Regions from separate parts of the Homo sapiens genome. Here regions 1, 2, 3 and 5 are each reported to be linked to region 4. Evidence: microRNA targets listed by miRTarBase, many of them from high-throughput screens and not tested one by one. Region 4 holds a microRNA gene; each other region holds the end of a gene's coding sequence.
Evidence for each region. Region 4 holds the annotated microRNA hsa-miR-6773-5p (UUGGGCCCAGGAGUAAACAGGAU, at 2,789-2,811, opposite strand). A microRNA usually pairs through its seed, bases 2 to 8, with sites in the 3' UTR of a target mRNA and lowers its output. Matches are read on the target gene's strand: a 7mer-m8 pairs with bases 2 to 8, a 7mer-A1 pairs with bases 2 to 7 and ends in A, and an 8mer does both.

Region 1: the mRNA of MTFMT is a reported target of hsa-miR-6773-5p. Seed matches in the 3' UTR shown: 8mer at 1,917-1,924.
Region 2: the mRNA of ADAMTS13 is a reported target of hsa-miR-6773-5p. The part of its 3' UTR that is shown has no 7-base or 8-base seed match.
Region 3: the mRNA of TMEM86A is a reported target of hsa-miR-6773-5p. Seed matches in the 3' UTR shown: 7mer-m8 at 687-693.
Region 5: the mRNA of BRMS1L is a reported target of hsa-miR-6773-5p. The part of its 3' UTR that is shown has no 7-base or 8-base seed match.

The regions. Positions count from the first base shown.
Region 1 is chr15:64,999,460-65,003,567 of GRCh38, reverse strand. It overlaps MTFMT (mitochondrial methionyl-tRNA formyltransferase), which reads left to right. Exons shown (of 9, transcript NM_139242.4): 9 at 312-2,056. The coding sequence ends at 506. Among named protein-coding and RNA genes, the nearest start is that of SPG21, 12 kb to the right of the region's middle.
Region 2 is chr9:133,458,753-133,462,869 of GRCh38, forward strand. ADAMTS13 (ADAM metallopeptidase with thrombospondin type 1 motif 13) reads left to right here. Exons shown (of 29, transcript NM_139027.6): 29 at 222-634. The coding sequence ends at 428. It overlaps CACFD1 (calcium channel flower domain containing 1), which reads left to right and starts at 1,226. Exons shown (of 5, transcript NM_017586.5): 1 at 1,226-1,435. The coding sequence starts at 1,315. RefSeq lists silencers at 822-1,041, 1,052-1,151, 1,442-1,741 and an enhancer at 3,684-4,117.
Region 3 is chr11:18,701,364-18,705,480 of GRCh38, forward strand. It overlaps TMEM86A (transmembrane protein 86A), which reads left to right. Exons shown (of 3, transcript NM_153347.3): 3 at 210-3,422. The coding sequence ends at 646. It overlaps IGSF22 (immunoglobulin superfamily member 22), which reads right to left. Exons shown (of 23, transcript NM_173588.4): 23 at 2,949-3,175. The coding sequence ends at 3,105. Among named protein-coding and RNA genes, the nearest start is that of IGSF22-AS1, 3.1 kb to the right of the region's middle.
Region 4 is chr16:68,230,684-68,234,794 of GRCh38, forward strand. It overlaps MIR6773 (microRNA 6773), which reads right to left and starts at 2,816; the gene lies at 2,743-2,816. ESRP2 (epithelial splicing regulatory protein 2) reads right to left here. Exons shown (of 15, transcript NM_024939.3): 3 at 3,311-3,424; 4 at 3,085-3,199; 5 at 2,644-2,742; 6 at 2,078-2,132; 7 at 1,894-2,004; 8 at 1,688-1,820; 9 at 1,563-1,605; 10 at 1,119-1,420; 11 at 799-1,011; 12 at 495-693; 13 at 158-344.
Region 5 is chr14:35,869,686-35,873,802 of GRCh38, reverse strand. It overlaps BRMS1L (BRMS1 like transcriptional repressor), which reads right to left. Exons shown (of 10, transcript NM_032352.4): 10 at 1,840-3,443. The coding sequence ends at 3,326. Among named protein-coding and RNA genes, the nearest start is that of BRMS1L, 45 kb to the right of the region's middle.

The sequences.
Region 1 (4,108 bases), not on the chromosome of region 4:
GTATTTCATGTTACATACCTTTTATTCTGCTCCCTTTGTATTTAAATATTTATACAGATCTATACATTTGTTATCGCTCCTTGGTAATAAGCTTTTAATTTCAGTGTCAAAAACCGCAATGACTTTTGCACCAACCTAATAGAGTCAAGGAATTCTACATGTTACTTAGTGTAGTGCTGTTTGCAGCTAGGCATTTAGTAAAGATTTGTTGGTTTGTTTGTTTCCATGATAAAAATTTTATAAACTAATATTTACTTGGCTTTTTAGTTTTGCCACCCCTGCCTATTCACTATTTGTATTTTGCCCTTTAGGATGGTTGGATTGGTGTTCGATCAGTGATGCTCAAGAAATCACTAACAGCTACTGACTTCTACAATGGATATTTGCACCCCTGGTACCAGAAAAATTCCCAAGCTCAACCAAGCCAATGCAGATTTCAGACTCTCAGACTTCCAACAAAGAAGAAGCAGAAAAAAACTGTTGCTATGCAACAATGCATTGAGTAGTTAGGAAGAAGATGGATAAAAACCTATTACATATTTGTAATTTATTAAAAACCTTATTTACAAGGAATTATCTGGACTTTTTTTTTTTTTTTTTTTTTTGAGACAGAGTCTCACTCTGTCACCCAGGCTGGAATCCAGTGGCACTATCTCAGCTCACTGCAACCTCCGCCTCCCAGGTTCAAGCAATTCTCCTGCCTCAGCCTCCTGAGTAGCTGGGATTACAGGCACACGCCACCACACGCAGCTAATTTTTGTATTTTTAGTAGAGATGGGGTTTCACCATGTTGGTCAGGCTGGTCTCGAACTCCTGACCTTGTGATCTGCCCACCTCAGCCTCCCAAAGTGCTATGATTACAGACGTGAGCCACCGTGCCTGGCCTGGAATTATCTGGACTTTCAAAGAAGATGGCATTATTATAAGAAGAGAAGATTATTGCCGAAAAGATGGATTGCCTCACTTTCCACTTTTTATGTAACAGTAGTTAAAAAACAGCTTTTTTTTTACTTGAATTACAAAAAAGTTTAAATAAAACTTGTATTTATGATACGAAACTCAAGGAGATTATCTTTCCTTAAGAACAAGGGCAACCCTAACTGGTGTATGTATGTACCTACATACATACTGAGAAGAGGTTTTTTGTTTTTATTTTTATTTTTTTGAGACGGAGTCTTGTTCTGTGGCCCAGGCTGGAGTGCAGTGGCGTGATGTCAGCTCACTGCAAGCTCCACCTCCCGGGTTCACACCATTCTCCTGCCTCAGCCTCCCAAGTAGCTGGGACTACAGGCGTCCGCCACCATGCCTGGCTAATTTTTTTTTTTGTATTTTTAGTAGAGATGGGGTTTCACTGTGTTAGCCAGGATGGTCTTGATCTCCTGACCTCGTGATCCACCCGCCTTGGCCTCCCAAAGTGCTGGGATTACAGCTGTGAGCCACCGTGCCTGGCCGAGAAGAGGTTTTTTTAAAAACAGTGCATCTATTTAATTTTTTAAAAATCGTGTCACCACTGACATTTTAGGAGTATTGAATCTGCATTTTTTATTTCCTATAAGTAGTAAATCCAGCTCTTTACATTTCACTACCAGCTAGATTTAACCAAGTAGTAAACGTAGGTAATATTTAATAATCTCTGCCACATTGATCTGTACTATAAATTAACATTTTACATCCAGATTTTATTTTTTTTTATTAATTTTTTTAGAGATGGGGTCTTGCTCTCTCACACAGTCTGGAGTCCAGTGGCGTGAAACACTGCTTACTGCATCTTCAACCTCCTGGGCTTAAGTGATCCTCCAGCCTCAGCCTCCCAAAGTGGGGCCACCACGCCTGGCTAATTTTCTTTCTTAGTTTTTAAAAAAAATTTTGTAGAGATAGGGGTCTCACTATGTTGCTTAGGCTGGTCTTGAACTCCTGGGCCCAAGCAATCCTCCTGCCTTGGCCTCTCAAAGTGCTGGGATTACAAGCATGAACCACTGCACCCGGCCCAGGTTTTCTTGAAGTAGGAACGTGCTAACATTTTTCAACTTACTTGTGCAATAAAGGTTATTGAGCATCTGGTGTGTGCAAACTCATCTTCTCTGTCTCCAGGAGAGTCAGAAGGAGGAGGAGAAGGAGGCACAGTGGCCGCAGAATCCACACATTGGCTTTTCCTGCCTAGATTCTGACAGTGAAAGTCTTTCTCTATTCTTTAAGTCATTTGTTAATTCAACATTTATGGATAGGGTGATTTGGTCATCTAAGTTAGGATGCTTTTATGAGTGAAAGAAGCACTTATAATTACTCCAGGGCAACAGACATAAACCAGGACTCTCCCAGGCAAACTGGGTTGTGTGGTCATCTGATGTATTGAGCACTTACTGTGTAACTAGAACTTCAAACTGGTTACCAGAGATTCAGAGATCAAATATTTGACATCTTCAACCTACCAGGGAGACAAATGTGTAAGCGAATATAATAGTTATAAATGCCATAGTAGAGGCATAAGGGAAGCATTGTGTCCCTCACGGGTGTCAATGGAGGCTTCCCAGAGGAAGTCAATGGAATTAGCTTCCAAAGGATGAGTTTACTATGCAGACTAAGGCCTGGAAGGACATTCTAGCATGTGCAGAGGCACAGAGACTTAAAAGAACACTATAGGGTGTTTGGTAATGTTTAGGTGGGAGCATGATTGTTCTTTTATTATTCTTTAAGCCATAAATTTGTCATACATTCCCTTGTATGTATGAGCTAGTTATAGAGCTGGCTGGGAAAAAGCTAACAATGGATTATGGAAGAGAAACAAATGGCATGTTGAATACCGGGGGAAAGCCCAGCGTTTTGATGAAAAGAATTGATGAGTGGAATCTGGTGATAGAAATGAGACTGCAAAAGCAAGCTGAGGCCTGATCATGGAGGACTTTGAAAACCATGAGAGTTAGGGCCTTTGTCTCATATGCAGTAGCCTGTGAGTAGAGTGGCGTGATCAGAGTTAGATTTTGGAAATTTAACTTTGGTGGTGGTGTGGAAGATAGGTTGGGGGTAAAACCTGGGCAGGAAGATCCGTTGGAAGGTTAGAAATGTGATCTTCAGGGACATGGATGGAGCTGGAAGCCATTATCTTCAGCAAACTAATCCAGGGACAGAAAATCAAACACTGCATGTTCTTACTTATAAGTGGGTGCTGAACAATGAGAACACATGGACACATGGCGGGGGAACAACACACAGGAGCATCTTGGGAGTGGGGATGGGGATGGGGGGAGGGAGAGCATCAGGAAGAATAAGGGATGCTGGGCTTAGTACCTAGGTAATGGGATGATCTGTGCAGCAAACCACCACGGCACACATTTACCTGTGTAAAAAACCTGCACATCCTACACATGTACCCTGAATTTAAAAGTTGAGGATAAAAGAGAAAAGGAATGTGAAGATCTGAGTTACGTCAGTGGTTAGGATAAAGGGGAGATGACTGAAAAGATTTTTGTGGGTGAGGGAATTTGAGTTATTGGGTATTATATCCTTATGGAGAGTTTTAGCTCCACCACTGATGAGCTCTTTGATCTCTGACAAGTCAGTATCACTGAACTTTATTTCCTCAAGTGTGAAATTAGGCTGATGATGAAAACAAAACACTACCAAAATAATTTTGAGAATCAACAAGAGACTGTGAAAGTGCCTTGTTTTTCCAATTGTATGTATTGAACACTTAATCCCCTCCAGGCACTCTGCTCATGTTAGGGAATTGGGAGAGAACGGAAATCAGTGTCGTCTAGGAGCTCATGAGTACGATTTCTGCAGGGGATCTAAGGAAGTGCCCACTCAGACACTGCCACCAGGACTGGGGAAACCTTACTGAGGGCACAGCTTCCCGTCAGAGTTGTGACCCAGGAAAGGTTGGATTCCTCTTGCAACACCTAAGCAATATTCTGCCCCTTCCATCCCCTCAAACAGGGTAACAACCTCGACAAGGGGAATCTTGAATAGTTGAAGGAATCGCAAAGGAGATCCCTTAAACCTTCACAATTGATGAAATCAGTAATCTGTGTGTGTGAAGTTAGGCTCTTGGTTGCAAATAATAGACTTGAAACACTTTAAAGAAATGGGGATTTTAGGCCAGGCATGGTGG
Region 2 (4,117 bases), not on the chromosome of region 4:
GGCAGCCTGGCCCCGCTCTGGCACCCTGACTGTGTGTCCTTGGGGAAGTGATGTAACGTCCCTGGACCTCGGTTTTCTGGGTAGAGTAATGGCGTATTCCTAGTAGGGCTTTGTAAGCATTAAATGTGATCCGGAATCTGTGAGCCCTTGCACACGAAGGCTTCCGTGAGTGCTAATTATTACTTGTGGCCGGTCCTTCTGGGCTGCCCCTTTTCTCTCAGATCCGGGACACCCACAGCTTGAGGACCACAGCGTTCCATGGGCAGCAGGTGCTCTACTGGGAGTCAGAGAGCAGCCAGGCTGAGATGGAGTTCAGCGAGGGCTTCCTGAAGGCTCAGGCCAGCCTGCGGGGCCAGTACTGGACCCTCCAATCATGGGTACCGGAGATGCAGGACCCTCAGTCCTGGAAGGGAAAGGAAGGAACCTGAGGGTCATTGAACATTTGTTCCGTGTCTGGCCAGCCCTGGAGGGTTGACCCCTGGTCTCAGTGCTTTCCAATTCGAACTTTTTCCAATCTTAGGTATCTACTTTAGAGTCTTCTCCAATGTCCAAAAGGCTAGGGGGTTGGAGGTGGGGACTCTGGAAAAGCAGCCCCCATTTCCTCGGGTACCAATAAATAAAACATGCAGGCTGACCGGCGTTTTTTTCTTATAAGCTGTCCAGACCTGGCTTGAAAACCCATCCCATGGCAAGGCAGGGATTCGCTGGCCGCGGTTGGCTCTATCTTGATCTGAGCAAGCCGCTGGACGTCCCTAGTTATCTTCTTCCTATCCAGGAAGAAAATCCAATCAGGATTCCACTCCGAGGATGGCGCATTAGCCAGCTCCCTGCGAAGCCCCACCCGTGTGTCCTGGTGTGAGGCTCTGACCGCTAAGGTGTCTGCGCGCCTCCAGGCCCCGCCCCCTATGCTAATAAGCGCCCGCCTCCTTTGGGAGCAAGTCGCCGCAAACTGCGAGCCCCCGCCCCCTACGCTAATGACGCCCGCCCCCCTCGGGCACACCTCTCCGATGCCTGCGAGCCCCGCCCCGTATGCTAACGAGCTCCCCACCCCCAGCTCCTCGCCGCAGCCTGCGGGTCCCGCCCCCTACAATAATGAGCACCTACCTCCCCTCAAACGCCCCTAGTCGCGGCATGAGGGTCCCGCTCACTATGTTAATGAGCACCCGCCTCCCTTCGGGCGCGCCTCGCCGCAGCCTGAAAGCCCCGCCCCCTATGCTAATATGCTCCCTCTCCCACAAGGCAGCGCGCCGGCTCGGACGCGGCCGGCTACCGAGCCCTTTGTGAGGGCTGTGAGCTGCGCCTGACGGTGGCACCATGAGCAGCTCAGGTGGGGCGCCCGGGGCGTCCGCCAGCTCTGCGCCGCCCGCGCAGGAAGAGGGCATGACGTGGTGGTACCGCTGGCTGTGTCGCCTGTCTGGGGTGCTGGGGGCAGTCTGTGAGTATCCAGTCGGGGAGAGGGGCCGGCCCCGCCGCGCATGCGCTCCTCGCCCTGCCCTGCCCCGCCCCGCCCCGGCGGCCCCAGGGGAAAGGACCCGCTGGGGGTCGGGGGTCTGCCGGGCGCCTCCCGGGGCGGAGGAATGGCGGGGCCGCCGGGAGCCGGCGTCCTGGGGTTGCCATGGTTACCCGCTCGGGCCTGGGCGCCTTGGTACCCCGGGCTGGGCTGGGCTGGCGCTTCTGGGAACATTCCCGGAGGGACCAGAAACCCCAGGGCGGGGGGGCGGCGGGGGCGGGGGTGGGGCACCGGCCTGGGGCACGTGACTGAGCCCTCCCCCCGCTCCCCAGGGGCTTTTGTGAGACTTTCTCGGTGATGCTCACGGGGCGCATGCCCACCTGGCCCGTACTAAAGCGTCAACTGTTGACTTGGGCGTAGGTGACGGCAGCCACATTGCTAACCTTTGGGCAAGGATTGTTTGTAAGGGAGGCGGGTGCACGGCTGGCTAGATTTCTGGCAGGAAGCCACTGGGCGGAAGTTTGCTGAGGGTCAGGTGGTGTCAGGGCACAGGTGGCCCCTGGGGCCGCGGGGCAGTGAGCTGAGGGCCCGGCCTCTCCCTGGGTCCTCTGTCCGCTCTCATATCTCCCCCGTTGCTGCTGCCTTAGCCGCCTGTCACCGGCCTTCCTCCCCTTCTCCGCACGCATCCCAGTCACAGACCCTGACCTTAGGCTGCCAGGGAAGCTAGGCTCTTAAGCACAGCCAGAAAAGGACAAAGAGGGAGGCAGGTCAGCTCCAGGAGTGAATGGAAGCCGTACAGCTGGCCTTCCAGGGAAAGACAAGTCTGTCTGAGTGATACCCTTTCCTTTCCTGTCTGCCCTCAATCTTGTGGATTACTGGAGTGGGCAAGGTCTTAGAGAATGTCTGTCGAGGATGTCTGCAGGTTTTAAACAGTGCCTGCCTGGCAGAGAGGGCTAGCTCTGGGCCTGGGCAGGGCAGGCCCCATCAGCAATCCTGCCAGAAGGACCACCTTTTCAGGGTCACCTTGGGTTCCACAGCCTTTCCAGGTGGGTAGAGGGTGGAGGGAGGTTGAGGCAGGAGGGTGCTGGGCTAGGAGTGTGCTGCCCTCGCTAGGCATGCCCTTATCCAGAGGCAACGGATACGGTAGGGCAGGCCCTACCCCCAAATCACAAAAAGGCCCCGAGTTTGTGTCACTGCTCTTCAGGGCAAGTACGCTTTTGACTTTGTAGGAGAGACTGGTGGGTTTGAAGTTAGGCATTGGATCCAGTCCTGTCATGTCTGGTTAGCTGTTTTCCCTGCAGATTAGGGTGGGCAGTGCAGTGGGGTGACATGGTCAGTGGTGAGAAAGGAAAGGTCCTGACTATGGCCTGTAGGCCACACCTCCTTCCTTCTTGGTCAGTGGCCCTGCCGACTCCCAGATTTGCTGTGGAGTCTTACTCAGTTCTGTGCCTCTCAAAGTGAGGTACCTCTGCCTTTCCTGGGAGTTCCTGGGGCTCTGTTGGGTCTACAGATGAAGCTTCAGGAGAAACTTGTGGCATTGCCCTGAGTTGTCAGTTGCATCTGCAGATTTTTGGGGGCATGGTTATGTGAACATCAAAATGCTGTATTACAGGGTAGAATGCAAAAATGCAGGGTGTTTTAGAGATGCGGCAGGAGTTCAGACAAGGGTTGTGTGCCGGGCTGGTCCTTGGGTAAGGTTTTCCTCCTCCAGGGTGAGGGGATCAGAGAGAGTACCTGGAGAGGGTCTACCCTGGGTCCTAAGAGCATCTGGAGGTGATACCTTGGGAGGGGACAGGATTGCATGGTGACAGCCCCCTCACGTGGAAGATATCAGCATTGAGGCCCCCAAGTGGACATCCTCCAGCCCTTTATTGCTAAAGGATTCCTGGCTGGAGCCTGCTGGTCTGGCTTGACACCTGGTCCTCCCCCAAGGCTGGCTGTGGGTTGGACAGCTGGGGTAGGGTTGGAGCTGGAGGCCAAATGCTGACTGCAGCAGGAAGCACAGCCGAGCTGTCAGGTGAGGCCAGGCACAGCAGAGAGGCAGGGAGCCGTGTCACCCTTTGGGCACTCTGCTAGGACAGGCAGGCCCCTGTGTACCTGTGGTTCTGGAACACCTTGCTGTCTGAAGGCAGATGTCTAAGGCTGTGCTGAGGAGCAGTGCAACGCTTGAGTCCTTTGTTTTAGAAGGAGACCCTGGGGGCCCATGAAGCAGTCCCATTGCAGTTCGGCTCACTTTATCTGGCTTCTTTGCCTGCTGTCTGCATAAGGTTACCTGGGAAAATGGAAAACAGCAGAATTCCAGACCCAGGTGGAGGGATCAGGTGCAGAGGAGCTGCTGCAAGTTTAATGAGCTGGGTGCTAATTGCTGCCTCCAAGGCCCCCCTCAGTGATGGCCTGGGCTTGCTCCCTGCCCAGCAGCCACCTCCTTGGACCTGCCTTGAAGGCTCCTGGAGTTCCTGGTGAAGCCAGGCTGCAGGCTGTGGGTGGAGGAGGGAGTTGGGTGCAAGAGACCCTGCTGGTGAGGTGCAGCTGGGAGGCGGGGCGTCAAGGCTGCACATCTGAGCATCAGAGAAGCCACGTTCTGGGGTGGAAAACGATGCCCCCTCCCCTTCCTGGCCTTATGGCATTTCAGCGGTGGGTGGCTGGGCTGTGGGACTTGCTCATGTG
Region 3 (4,117 bases), not on the chromosome of region 4:
CAGGGGAACTAGTGATCAGTTCCAGAGTCCTTCAGGGGACTGGGGTGGTGGTCTTTAACTTTAGATCTTCCTACCCCTGTTATCCCAAAGCAAAGCTGCTGGGTTATCCCAAACACTCCACTCCATCGCCACATCCATCCCTACCCCCACCCTGTTACTCATTCTTCATCAAGCTTGCCCTCAGCTGCCTTTGCCCCTCTTACCCCCAGGTCTGCTGATGTTTGCTGTGACCCACATGTTCTACGCCTCGGCCTTTGGCATGCAGCCACTGGCTCTTCGGACAGGTCTGGTGATGGCAGCGCTGTCGGGCCTGTGCTATGCCCTCCTCTACCCATGCCTCTCAGGTGCCTTCACCTACCTGGTGGGGGTCTATGTGGCCCTTATCGGCTTCATGGGCTGGCGAGCTATGGCAGGGCTGCGGCTGGCCGGGGCAGACTGGCGCTGGACAGAGCTGGCAGCTGGCAGTGGTGCACTCTTCTTTATCATCTCAGACCTGACCATCGCCCTCAACAAATTCTGTTTTCCTGTGCCCTACTCTCGGGCGCTTATCATGTCCACCTACTATGTGGCCCAGATGCTCGTCGCCTTGTCAGCTGTCGAAAGCCGGGAGCCTGTGGAACACTACAGACTGACCAAGGCCAACTGAGGTGCCAGGGTCTGGTCACCCCTCTCTCCTCCTGGGGCTGGGGCCCAGATCCTGGGGACCTGCAGGAGCTGGATCAGGATGGCTGCAGTGCCAGCCTGGGGCAGCAGGTACTGCCTGAGGAATTTGCAAGTTCGTGTGGGGAGGCTGGAAAAGGATCTCCCTAGCAGAACTCGTGGTTCAGGACAATGCTGAGAGCTAAAAGAGCCAGCCTAATATCAGACTGGAGCCAGAAGTAGACATCTCCCCACCTCTACCCTATCAGGACTTTCAAAACCCCCCTGGAAGGTGATGGTGCTCAGCTTCTTGACACCCCCCCACCCACTTCCCCTACCAGGTGGAAGAGTCTGACTCCATGTGTTATGCCTAGGACCAATGGCAGTGCTGGGTTCACCCACTCCTCCCCTTTTTCATCTGCACAAAGTTGAGGGAAACGGGAGAATCTGTGCTGAGAAGACTCAGACCCAGGAGCCCCTTTCACAGGCCCCTAGTTGGGAAGACTGGATGAGAGTGGAGCCTCCGTTTCTTTTCCCTCTTCTATCCTTGTTACTTGAACAATCTCAGTCTCTAAGTGGTGGGTGGGGACATGAAGAGGTGTGGGTCCAGGTTAGGCAGGAGAGAGAACTTCTTTGGTCTCGGAGTTTGGGGTCTCAAGAATTCAAGTAGCCCCATCTCTCTCTCGGGCAAGCCCAAAGCTCAGGTCCCATACGCTACCCTTAGATCCTATCCCCAGGGCTAGGGTGAACCATGCCAAAGGAAGGGGCCAGCTTCTCTGTGTGTGTGTGTAGCCTGTCTCCTAGTCTGCCTATGTCTTTCTCTGCTATATGTTTCTGTCCTGCTGTCTGTCAAAAGTCTCACAGAGAGAGGGCCTCAGGGAGCTGCTGAGGGGTGCTGAGCCTGGCTCAGGGAGCTGGGACCCCTCCCCTCCAACACACATACTCACAGTGCTTTCCTCCTTGTCCCTCCTACACTAGGAGCAAGAGGAGGGGGCTCCAATGACACTCCGGGGTTTTAAGACCCAAGGCACATTCAATGCAAGGGGAGCAAGGATGGGACAACTCCATCTTCTGCTGCCCATGTGAAAAATAATAAAAATCAAGAGCCATTGGCTGCCCTGCTTGTGGGCCTGTGTGGCACATGCCTATCTTGGAGAGGGCATGGGGGCATGGTGCCAGAGGCTCTGGCTGTCCTCACAGCCTAGTCACAGTCCTGGGCAGTGCATCTTGGTGCCAGGCTGGCTACCTGGCTCTGGTGACACTGTGCCGGTTGGAGTGTGTCTCACTTCCCTGGTGTGGGTGAGGATGTGGTTTAGGAGGATGGGGGATGAGTGGTATTTGCCACTGTCCAAATTTGTCCTTGATGTACTCCCCTGTGCACAGGTGCCCAGCACCCTTGGTGACCTTTAGTTACCCAGTGTCATCTATTGCTGCCCACCTCCTCCCCTCCCCACTTGAGACCTGCTGCTTCCTTCAAAATGATCCAGATTCCCTTCAAGCATCTCCCTCATCCTGGACTCTGGGCTTAGTTGAACAGCTGGGAGCAATGGGATTAGATTGGCTGATTCATTCATTAGTTGTAAAGCCCTGGCAGAATAATACATCACTCTGCTCCAGGAGCATTTGTAACTTAACAGACAATGCCCTAACCCAGAAGTAGAAAGGGAAGCCTTGGGTGGTGGTGGATATGCCATCAGTAGAGGTGTTGCTCATTTGTGGGGATGTGATTTAGGAGACTCAAGTCTCAGGGGTGGTTGGATGAGTCAGTGATTTCCAAATTAGTTTTTACAGAGATTCCTGGTAAGGGGGTAGTGAAGGAATAATGAGAGAAGGCAGGCTCAAAGACCTCCTATCCTTATTTCAAGTCCAGTAGCTTCTTAGGTTGTGTTTTTTTTTGTTTTGTTTTGTTTTGGAAGGATTCCACTGAAAAACGTAAGTTTGAAACTTAGTGAGCTGGATGATCAATCCCTTCTAGCTCTGAACCCTGGACACTAAAGAGGGAAGATCTTGATCCTTTCAAACTTCAGAACTCTGAACACAGACCTACCTAGTGTGAAGAAATGGGAGGGAGCAGGATGGAGAGCAGGATGAAGTCAGCAGGACTTGCCCCCAAGCTCTGAGGGGAGGGGGAAAGTGCCATGTAGATGTGGAGGAGGGGAAGGGAAGACCAGGCCCAGTCACAAGAAGGCTGGTCACTGCCTTGTGGGTGGGTTTGGACTAGGCTTTCAGGGGTCCAGGTCTGGGATTCCCTATCATGCAATCACATCCATCCCCTTGGTCCCTGCTGTATATCACCCTCAGGAACGGGAAAGGATGAGTTACGTTTATTGCCCCATCCCTTCACTGAATGTTTACATTAACAAACACCAGAGAGCAAACTGGGCTTCCTACACTGGGCCATGCAGAGGACAGGCCAAGAAACTCCACATCATAACAGCCTCCTGATGCCTGGGCTTGGCTGGAGCTCACATGAGGTGCTTTGATTTCTTCTGCAGACTCTCGGTGATGGATGCTACAACTGACTTATCATCTTTGTCTGAAAGAGCAAAGGAAGTATTCGTTATATTAATGATGCTGGCGACCAGGGAAATTCCAAACTGCTGGACTTCCTATGCAGGAAACCAGGAGCTGGACCCTGGGACCCTTAATCTTGGGTTGGCAGAGTGTGAAGGGGCAAGAGCTGCCATTTATCTAGCACTTAATATTTGCCAGACATTGTGCCAGGCAGTTGTGTACTGTCTCATTTAAGCCTCATAGTCCTATAAAGAAGATGAGAAAACAGGCTCAATGAGGTAGCTTACTAAGGTCACATGGCTGGTCAGTGGCAGAGCCAGGGCCCTGGGCCCATTTGCTGTGCTTACAAGCAGATTTGAGTTATCAGGGATCTCTTTAGCTGTGGAATGAAAGCTGGATAGCACCCACAGTGCCTTCCCTGGCCTAGTTCTTTTACACAGCTCAGCAGCCTCTCTGGAGATATTGTCTCAGTGCCAGACACTTAGCTAAGCACTCGAGAGACAGAGCAACAGGACAAGGTCCTTTCCCCAAAGAAAGGTATCTATAACTGGATAAAAAAGGTCTGTAACCATGGAGACCACAGCAATGGAGTGTCATGGAAGGTTCAGGAGTAGCAGAAGGTGAGATGAGAGGTGGGGGAGGGGGAAACCTTCTTGGTTTGGGATTTTACCATGAGAGGAAAGCTGGGGGAAATTTAAGCAACAGAAAGCAAGGCAGGCCAGCTTTGCATTTAGAGTTCATGCTGCTAGCTGTGTGGCTATGAAGACAGTAGACTGGGAAGGAATAAAATGCTTCCCCCTATGTGTGCACACATGAGTAGAAACATGGCATGCATGTACAAAAGGGAGGGTTCCCTTCGCTCCTTCCCTTGTTTGTGCCCCCCACCGGTCCTTATCCTAGACCAGTTTTAATTTTTATTGCACATCAGAATCACCCGCAAAATTTTGTAAACATATAGGTTATT
Region 4 (4,111 bases):
TCATTTTCGATCTGTTTTGTAGATGGCATTAGCCAGCTGCCACCTTACTCCCTTGTCATCTCAAGGGAGGAGTTATCTGGTCCAGAAAGGGGATCGTGACCTTTCCCCAGATTGGGACAGGGAGTGGGACTGTGATATTCTCTTAGCTGCAGGGTACCTTGGGTAGTAGGCTGTGTAGTTCAGGTAGAGTTGAGTGGCTGGCCCTGGATAGTAGGCAACAGGGGTGGGGGCAGCAGGCACCCTGGCAGCTGGGAGCAGTGCTGAAGAGGGGTATAGAGCTGCCGTCTCCGTGGGAATGAGCGTTGGGGTGGCTTGGAAGGTGGTGTAGGTAGGTGGTGAGAGGCCTAGAGACGGAAGTAGAAAGTGCATGTGCACGGAGCCCAGCACTGCCCTGGGTGGGGTAGCCAGAAAGGAGTCCCCGCTATAGAAGGTAGGGGCTTACAACAGCCTGGCTACCACAGGCCTCCTCCTCCCCTAGCCCCTAGGGCACTCACAGGGCAGCTTGCAGGGTGGAGGGGACATGCCACTGCGGCCCAAGGTGCCCCCCATCAGCACTCGGCTCATCTCCTCTGTGGAACAGGGGACCACCTCCACGTAGCGCTCCTTCATCACCTTCTTATGGCAACGCTGAGCAGCAGCTAGGGCTCGCTCTGCTGATGTCATCTGAATGAAGGCATCGCCCGATGGCCGGCCCTGTGCACACCATCTTGTGAGCAGTTTGTCATGTGTAAGAGTGCCTTACCCCTAACACACACCCCTTCCTATTTATGTGTTCCCCCTACCAAGCAGTGGCTTCACCTGCTGGTTGAGCACCATGTGTACACCGTGGGGCCGAATGTCAGCTGCTGCCTCCCCCAGAAAGCTCAGGATGTCTTCAATGGTGGCCGTGTAGGGCAGGCCTCGGAGGCGTACACAGTCCCTCCCAGTCCCAGGTGCCAGTGGGAAGGGGATGGGCAGCAGTGGGGCAGTCAGTGTAGGAAGGAGTGGGCCGGATGCATAGCGGTTCAAGACCTAGTAAGGAAGGCAGCAACAGGCTGGTCATGCCAAGTAGGGCAGGGACACAGAGGGCCGCCCTGGAGTAACAGTACATCTGGGGGTGGGGAGCCCTGGGCGCTCACCTGCTGCACTTCGGCTGCAGTGCTCCGGAAGAGTTCAATGTATCGCTTACCCAGCATGCCCTTGTGCCTGCGCAGTGCAGCCTGTGCCAGCTCCTCACAAGCAAAGAGGGCGAAGGCATCACCAGTCGGCCGGCCATCAGGATGGCGCACAAAGAGCAGCCCCTCGGTACCCCCAGTCACTGGGCACTCTGGCCCCAGGAAGCCAAGCACGTCCGTTGGCCCAGCCGAGAAGGGCAGTCCCCGCAGCCGCAGGATCACTTGGTCTTCCCGTGACAAGAAACGAGCCACCTCTAGTGATGTGCCTGTGTATGAGAGTCGCCTGCTGACTTCACTCATGCTCCTCCAGACACTCACCCATGCAGGGGAGCAGGCAGGCAAGGGGTGGTGGGGAAGTGAAATGGATCAAGAACCAGGGGAGCCAGGCCCTGTTTGCAGTATACTCACCCCCTGCAATCTTTACAAACTCCTCCCCTGTCGCTTTATACACCTGTGGGTACAGAGAGCAGCAGCCCATGGGTCTCAGGCCTGACTCAGATTGGCCCTGCTCCGCTCCCAGCCCAAAGCCCCACCTCAATATAGCGGACGCCCATGTGGTGCTTGTGTCTCTGCAGCGCTAGGTCCCGCTGCTCGCTGTCCACAAAGCGGATGAGGGCCTCGCCATTTCTGCGGCCCTGGGCGTTGAGGCAGAGTGCTACACCACCCCTGTGGAGCCAGTGCTGTTAGTGCCTCCTGGGTAGGCCTGTCCAATTGGGCCCACCCACCCTGCCACACCCACCTGGCCACGTTGAGCCCTTTGAAGAAGCGAGCCACGTCCTGGTCTGATGACTGCCACGGCAACCCACGAGCCCGTACCACAGTCTCACTGTCCACCACATCAGCCTTGCTGCTGTAGGGGCAGGGCACAGTGCTGTCAGAGCTATTCAGCTGTTGTCACCCCCAGCCCCTGCTCCCACACTCACCAAGGCCCCGTCTCGTATTTCTGCTTTATCACCTCGGGCTTCGAAAACAATTGACCTGAGAAAAGATGGCCTGGGGGTCAGCAGGGTCTGGTGGAGAGGGGTGTCCCCACCAAGTTCTGCAAAAAGTGGACAATTGAGAGAGATGAAGAAATGACAGGCCGAGCACAGTGGCTCACGCCTATAATCCCAGCACTTTGGGAGGCCAAGGTGGGTGGATCATTTGAGGTCAGGAGTTCCAGACCAGCCTGGCCAACATGGTGAAACCCCATCTCTACTAAAAATACAAAAATTAGGTGGGCATGGTGGCAGGCGCCTATAATCCCAGCTACTCTGGAGGCTTAGACAGGAGAATCGCTTGAACCCGGAAAGTGGAGGTTGCAGTGAGCTGAGATTGTGCCACTGCACTCTAGCCTAGGCTACAGAGGGAGACTGTCTCAAAAAAAAAAAAAAAAAAGAAATGACAAAGAGGATTCCCCCGTGGTCTCTTAGAGAAGGTCACAGTGGGGAGGAGCAATAGGCATTTGTCATCCCTGAGAACAGGTGACAGGCAGTGAGGGAAACCTTACTGCTGGGCTCTTTGAGTAGATGGAGGATAACAGCTACCATTGTCTTGACTTCCCAGACCCCAAAGTCATCCTCTGTGGCATCTGTCTCCAGTCCTAAACCTATGGGCAGAGAAGTGACAGTGAAGACATCTTAGCATAAGCACTAATCCTGTTTACTCCTGGGCCCAACTCCCCTCCATAGACACATGCTGGAGACCAGCATACACATTTGTTTTGGCCCAGTTCATGTGTGCACATACAGATTCCCAGTCCAGACATAGACAGACACATACCCACATTCCAAACTCATCCTAGCACAGACACGAAGACACAGTACACTCAGGGACTTAGCAGATAACGCAGTCTTGTATGTGTCCATATTACCCACCCACAGCATGCACATACTCAGACACATGTACCCACAGTGGCTTCTCCACCCTAACCCTGCTGGGTCACAGATACCCTGTGCCATGGTGGCCACAGTGAGGTCCCTGGCAGGGCAGGTGCTTGGATGCTGCATATGGAATTCTCTTCGGAGGTCATAGAAGGAGAAGAACATGTCGGGGAGCACCAGGTTCTGGGGGCACATAGGATTGAGGATGAGCGCCCTGCCCACCCTCAGGACAAGAGGGGTTCTGGGAACCTTACTGACCACCCCACCCCACCCGGTTTTCCTTCAGGAGCATACCTTCCTGGAGGCCTCGGGGTGCAGGACCTGTCGCAATAGCTGCTGCCCATCAGTGCAGAGCATGTAGGGGCCCCCGCCCAGCAAAGCCACATCCCCGTTCACCAGCTGTGAGAACTGGGGATAGGGAATGGGGAGAGAGAAACACACAGATTCACAGCTGGGCAGGCAGGAAGTGAGGGTAGGAGGAAGGAGGCAGGCTGCAAAGCTGGTTCAGCCAGATGTTCAGCCCTATCCTGCCTGGGAATAAGAGGCCACGCCTGTTGAGCCTAGCCCTATGTCCCTTCCCCTCACCCCCCAACCCTGTTCCAGTCCACTGTCACCTCCTCCAGGCCAAATGAGGGCAATCACATATAACCGAAGCCCTCAACACACACACTCCAGGAGTTTGGAGTGGGGCCAGAGCAAACACCTGGAGTGGGACAAGCAGGTGGGAAGGGGCGGGGCAAAGCAGGTTAAACCTGTCTTTGACCGGGTACCACCCTCAGACAGGTGGGGGAGGCCCAGGCCTGCCTGAGGCCCAGAAGGCTCATGGTCAATGGCAGCCCCGCCTCCAGGTCTGACCAACCGAGGGGCAGAGAAACTCCAAGGACAGAGCTCCACACTTGGACATCAGGGGCAGCATGAGCTTTGACCCACATCCTATTGACCGGCTGGCACTGAGCTGTTTGCTCATAGAGGGGGTGGCACTCCTGAGGCTGCCCAGCCCTCCCCCAGCCTCCATCCTTGCTGGAGAAGTATAAACACTAATCAGTGACCCACGAACCCTCCCTGCCAATTCTGTGACACTTTACAACTTGGGGC
Region 5 (4,117 bases), not on the chromosome of region 4:
TTTTTTTTTTTTTTTTTTGAGACAGAGTCTCACTCTGTCACCAGACTGGAATACTGGAATGCAGTGGCATGATCTCAGCTCACTGCAACCTCCGCCTCCCAGGTTCAAGCGATTCTCCTGCCTCAGCTTCCCAAGTAGCTGGAACTACAGGTGCGCGCCACCACACCCAGGTAATTTTTGTATTTTTAATAGAGACAGGGTTTCACCATGTTGGCCAGGATGGTCTCAATCTCTTGACCTTGTGATCTGCCCGCCTCAGCCTCCCAAAGTGCTGGGATTACAGGCGTTAAGACACCACGCCCGGCCTATCCTATATCCATTTTCTTATAAGAGAAATTCATTTTAGTTCAGTTTTATTGTACTGGATTTACTGGGTCCAAAAACAAAAAGAAAAAACAGATAACTTCTCCTCTAGGTGTTAAGTAGATTTTTTCCTCATCTTCTTAACTCTTATCATAACAGAAATTAAAGTGCACAAGACCATCAAAAATATGTGATTTGGTTGTACCCTAAATATGGGGCACATGTCCTCAGGACCTCCTGAGGCTATGTCATGGGAAAAAAAATGTTATATATATATATATATATATATATATATATATATATATATATACACACACACATATACAGCCAGTTGTGCTGCCATATTAAAGGTTCAATTCTTTCTACTGTTCCTGAATCTTTGGAAGTTTTTCTTCTTTTTAAATAATTATTAATGAGGCATACATGGTTCTGCAACTGGTGTTCCAAGTAATGCATACATCAGAACAACTTTTACATGAAGAAGGCTGCAAAAAAGTACTGTGTCCAGCCCACCAATATGAACAGTGAAAAAGGGGACAAATCAGGAGTGTGCCATTACTATTTGCCAATAATTATTAGTTGAAGAATTGCATTAGTGATACTTAGATAGTATCTCTTTTTAAAAAATGGGAAACAGCAAGGAGGGGATGGATTGAACATGAAAAACTAGGAGCTGTGACAATAAAGGTCAAGAAATGATCCTGAGACAGAAGCTGATCATAAACACAGGAGCAGCAGCAGCCACTACATCACATTTTGGAGTTTCTAATAATTTTCCTAAATTAAACTTTATGACCAGACAACTAATGGCAAACTGCCAATAAGACAATATATTTTATAGCATTTTAGTCATAGATAAGCATATGCTTTTATGAATCTTAATATTATGGTAGAATACTACATAAGATATAAATACTAAAGTTTTGAAAATAAATGTACTAAATCATAGTTTTAAAATAAAGATTTCCTAGGCCAGGTGTGATGGCTCATGCCTATAATCCCAGCACTTTGGGAGGCCAAGGTGTGCGGATCACCTGAGGTCAGGAGTTTGAGACCAGCCTGGCCAACATGGCAAAAACCTGTCTCTACTAAAAATATACAAATTAGCCAGGTGTGATGGTGCACACCTGTAATCCCAGCTACTCAGGAGGCTGAGGCAGGAGAATCACTTGAGCCTGGGAGGCAGATGTTGCAGTGAGCCAAGATCGTGCCACTGCACTCCAGCCTGGGTGACAGAGCAAGACTCCATCTCAAAAAATAAAAATAAAAAAATAAAGATTTTCTATTTAGAATTTCATTAACTTATACAGTACCTTTTAATCAAAGTACAACACATATGCATATATTTTAAAATTAAGTATAACTTAGCTGTCTTGAACATCTAAATATACCCCAGAAAGTGCTGAGGTTACAGGTATGAGCCACTGCACCCAGCCTACTCCATATCTATTAACGTAAACCAATTCAAATCTTTCTTACAAGTGGATAGGTTATAAAAAGAACTAAATACACATAAGTAATCCAAGACACTACAAATCACACTGAAACACATCTTTTTATTATATACTAAATTTAAAAATACAAATCTTATTAAAAATGCTTATCAAACATTGTATACATAAGTACTGTCAAATACTATTGGGTTTTGACATTATGTACATTTGCTAAGGTTAATTAGAAACAGAACAACGTAATATCACTTTGCTGACACTGAATTTCAGCAGTTAAGTGTTTTAAAATTTGGCAACTATGAAGTAGTGATCTGCACAGGAAGATGTTTGGAGAGGTAAAATAATAAGAAAACAAACGGAATAATGCAGACATTTCTGCAGTAAGTGTTAATAAGTAGATTTCTTCCTCATCCTCTTAACTCATTGTAACAGAAATTAAAGTGCACAAGACCACCAGGAATACCTGATTTGGTGTACCCTAAATATACACTACAGCCGGCTGTGCTGCCATATTGAGGGTTTCAATTCTTTGTACTGTTCCTGAGGTTTTGGAAGTTAATTTTGAATGTGGCTAGCGGAAGGGAGGCCAACACTTTCTAAATTGCACCAAATGGCCTTAAAGTGTAGAAATACCAAAGAAAAAAATATTAATTTGGAAATAGATTCAAGGAAATAATCCCTGTCTACTTTGCCCTAGGAATAAAATTAGAATAAGGACACAGTTTTACCTCTGGAAAATGCTTACTAAAATCTGTTTCAAAAGACCAGACATGTACAGCAAGCACAATACTGTCAGTTATTGTTCACCACTTATATACTGCATCATAAATACCAGGTATAAATACCTGCCGCTAAAGGGTCACTAGAAATACAGGTAGAAGCATGTTATCACTTTACACTAATTTTACTCATTAGGTATAATTTGTAAAAATAGGTCACCACCCCACCATACAATCAAGAAAGAGGAAAAGAAAAGTTGCTATTCTACAAAAGTGCTCCTTTTAGCTTTCAACCCCAATAGCTTAATTTTGGGTAAAACAAGATTGTAAGGTATGGCCATCAGTTCTAAATAAGCTGATGATGCCATATATACATCCTCATATATATATATGTTTAAATTTCAGTTCTGGTTTAACACTAATGTACTAGTACAAACCATTTATAGGAAACATTCTATCGGCCTTATTTACAAACACACAATGAATGACAAAGATATGGAAAATTTTAAAAATTGCAGATAAATGTAGTCATAGTTTACTAAAGATAAGACAAATTTGCATAACTTTTTTTAAAACCAAAGAAAAATGTTTAGAAAGAAACCCCTACCATATACAGAATACCTATTGGTCATCGGACCTAAGAGGCAAATCAACGTAAGGATCGTGATAAAATTTTTATTACTGTTTCTTTTAATAACATATCAATGAGATCTATTTAGAGTACTACCTACAAATACACATTCTCTCATGATTCAGTGAGAATATTAAGTTATTGAATACATTTTTTTACTCTCATGGCACTTACATTTGGTAACACTAATAAGGTAAATTTAGATAACACTTAAATCATGATTATGAATGTTTAATTGAATATTTTCCTTTCTGTAGCTGTGAAATGTAAAGCTTAGATTTGCTTCCATCAGGCCTCTTAAACCAAACTTCATCATGGTTAATTGTTGTAATTACAGCACTAAAAAGAAAAAAAAAAGAATGAATGAATGAATTACAATGTCTCCTCAATTCACTTTAGATTATTACCTATATAAAACCAAAATAAACTGGCCTACAACAGTAGACTCAGGTATATAATTGTCATTTACCAGAATGCTGCATATCAGCAGTACATGCTGCCAAAAATATCACATTCAGCAACACAGCAGATCATCCTTCTTTTCTTAATAGAGTTCGTAAAATTTACTTTCTATTAGAACTATTAAAAGCACATTCTTCCTACTCCATCCCCACCCCACCTCTTTAAAAAAAAAAAAAAAAACTGGAGCTAAAAGCGCTATGTATATGGTATTATACTTGTAACTCATGTCAGTATCTTTCAAATGCTAATCTCTAATTCCTAATGTCAAACCATCTACGGTACTTATACCAATTTTTTTTACACTACTAATCTTTACATAAAAAGATCTATTCTTTAAATAGATTTGTATTTTATTCTTTTTTTAATTATTTATTTTTTGTTTATTTATTTTGAGACAGAGTCTCACTCTGTCGCCGAGGCTGGAATGCAGTGGCGCAATCTCAGTTCACTGCAATCTCCACCTCCCCGGTTCAAGTGATTCTCCTGCCTCAGTCTCCCAAGTAGCTGAGACTACAAGCACGTGCCACCATGCCTGGCTAATTTTTGTATTT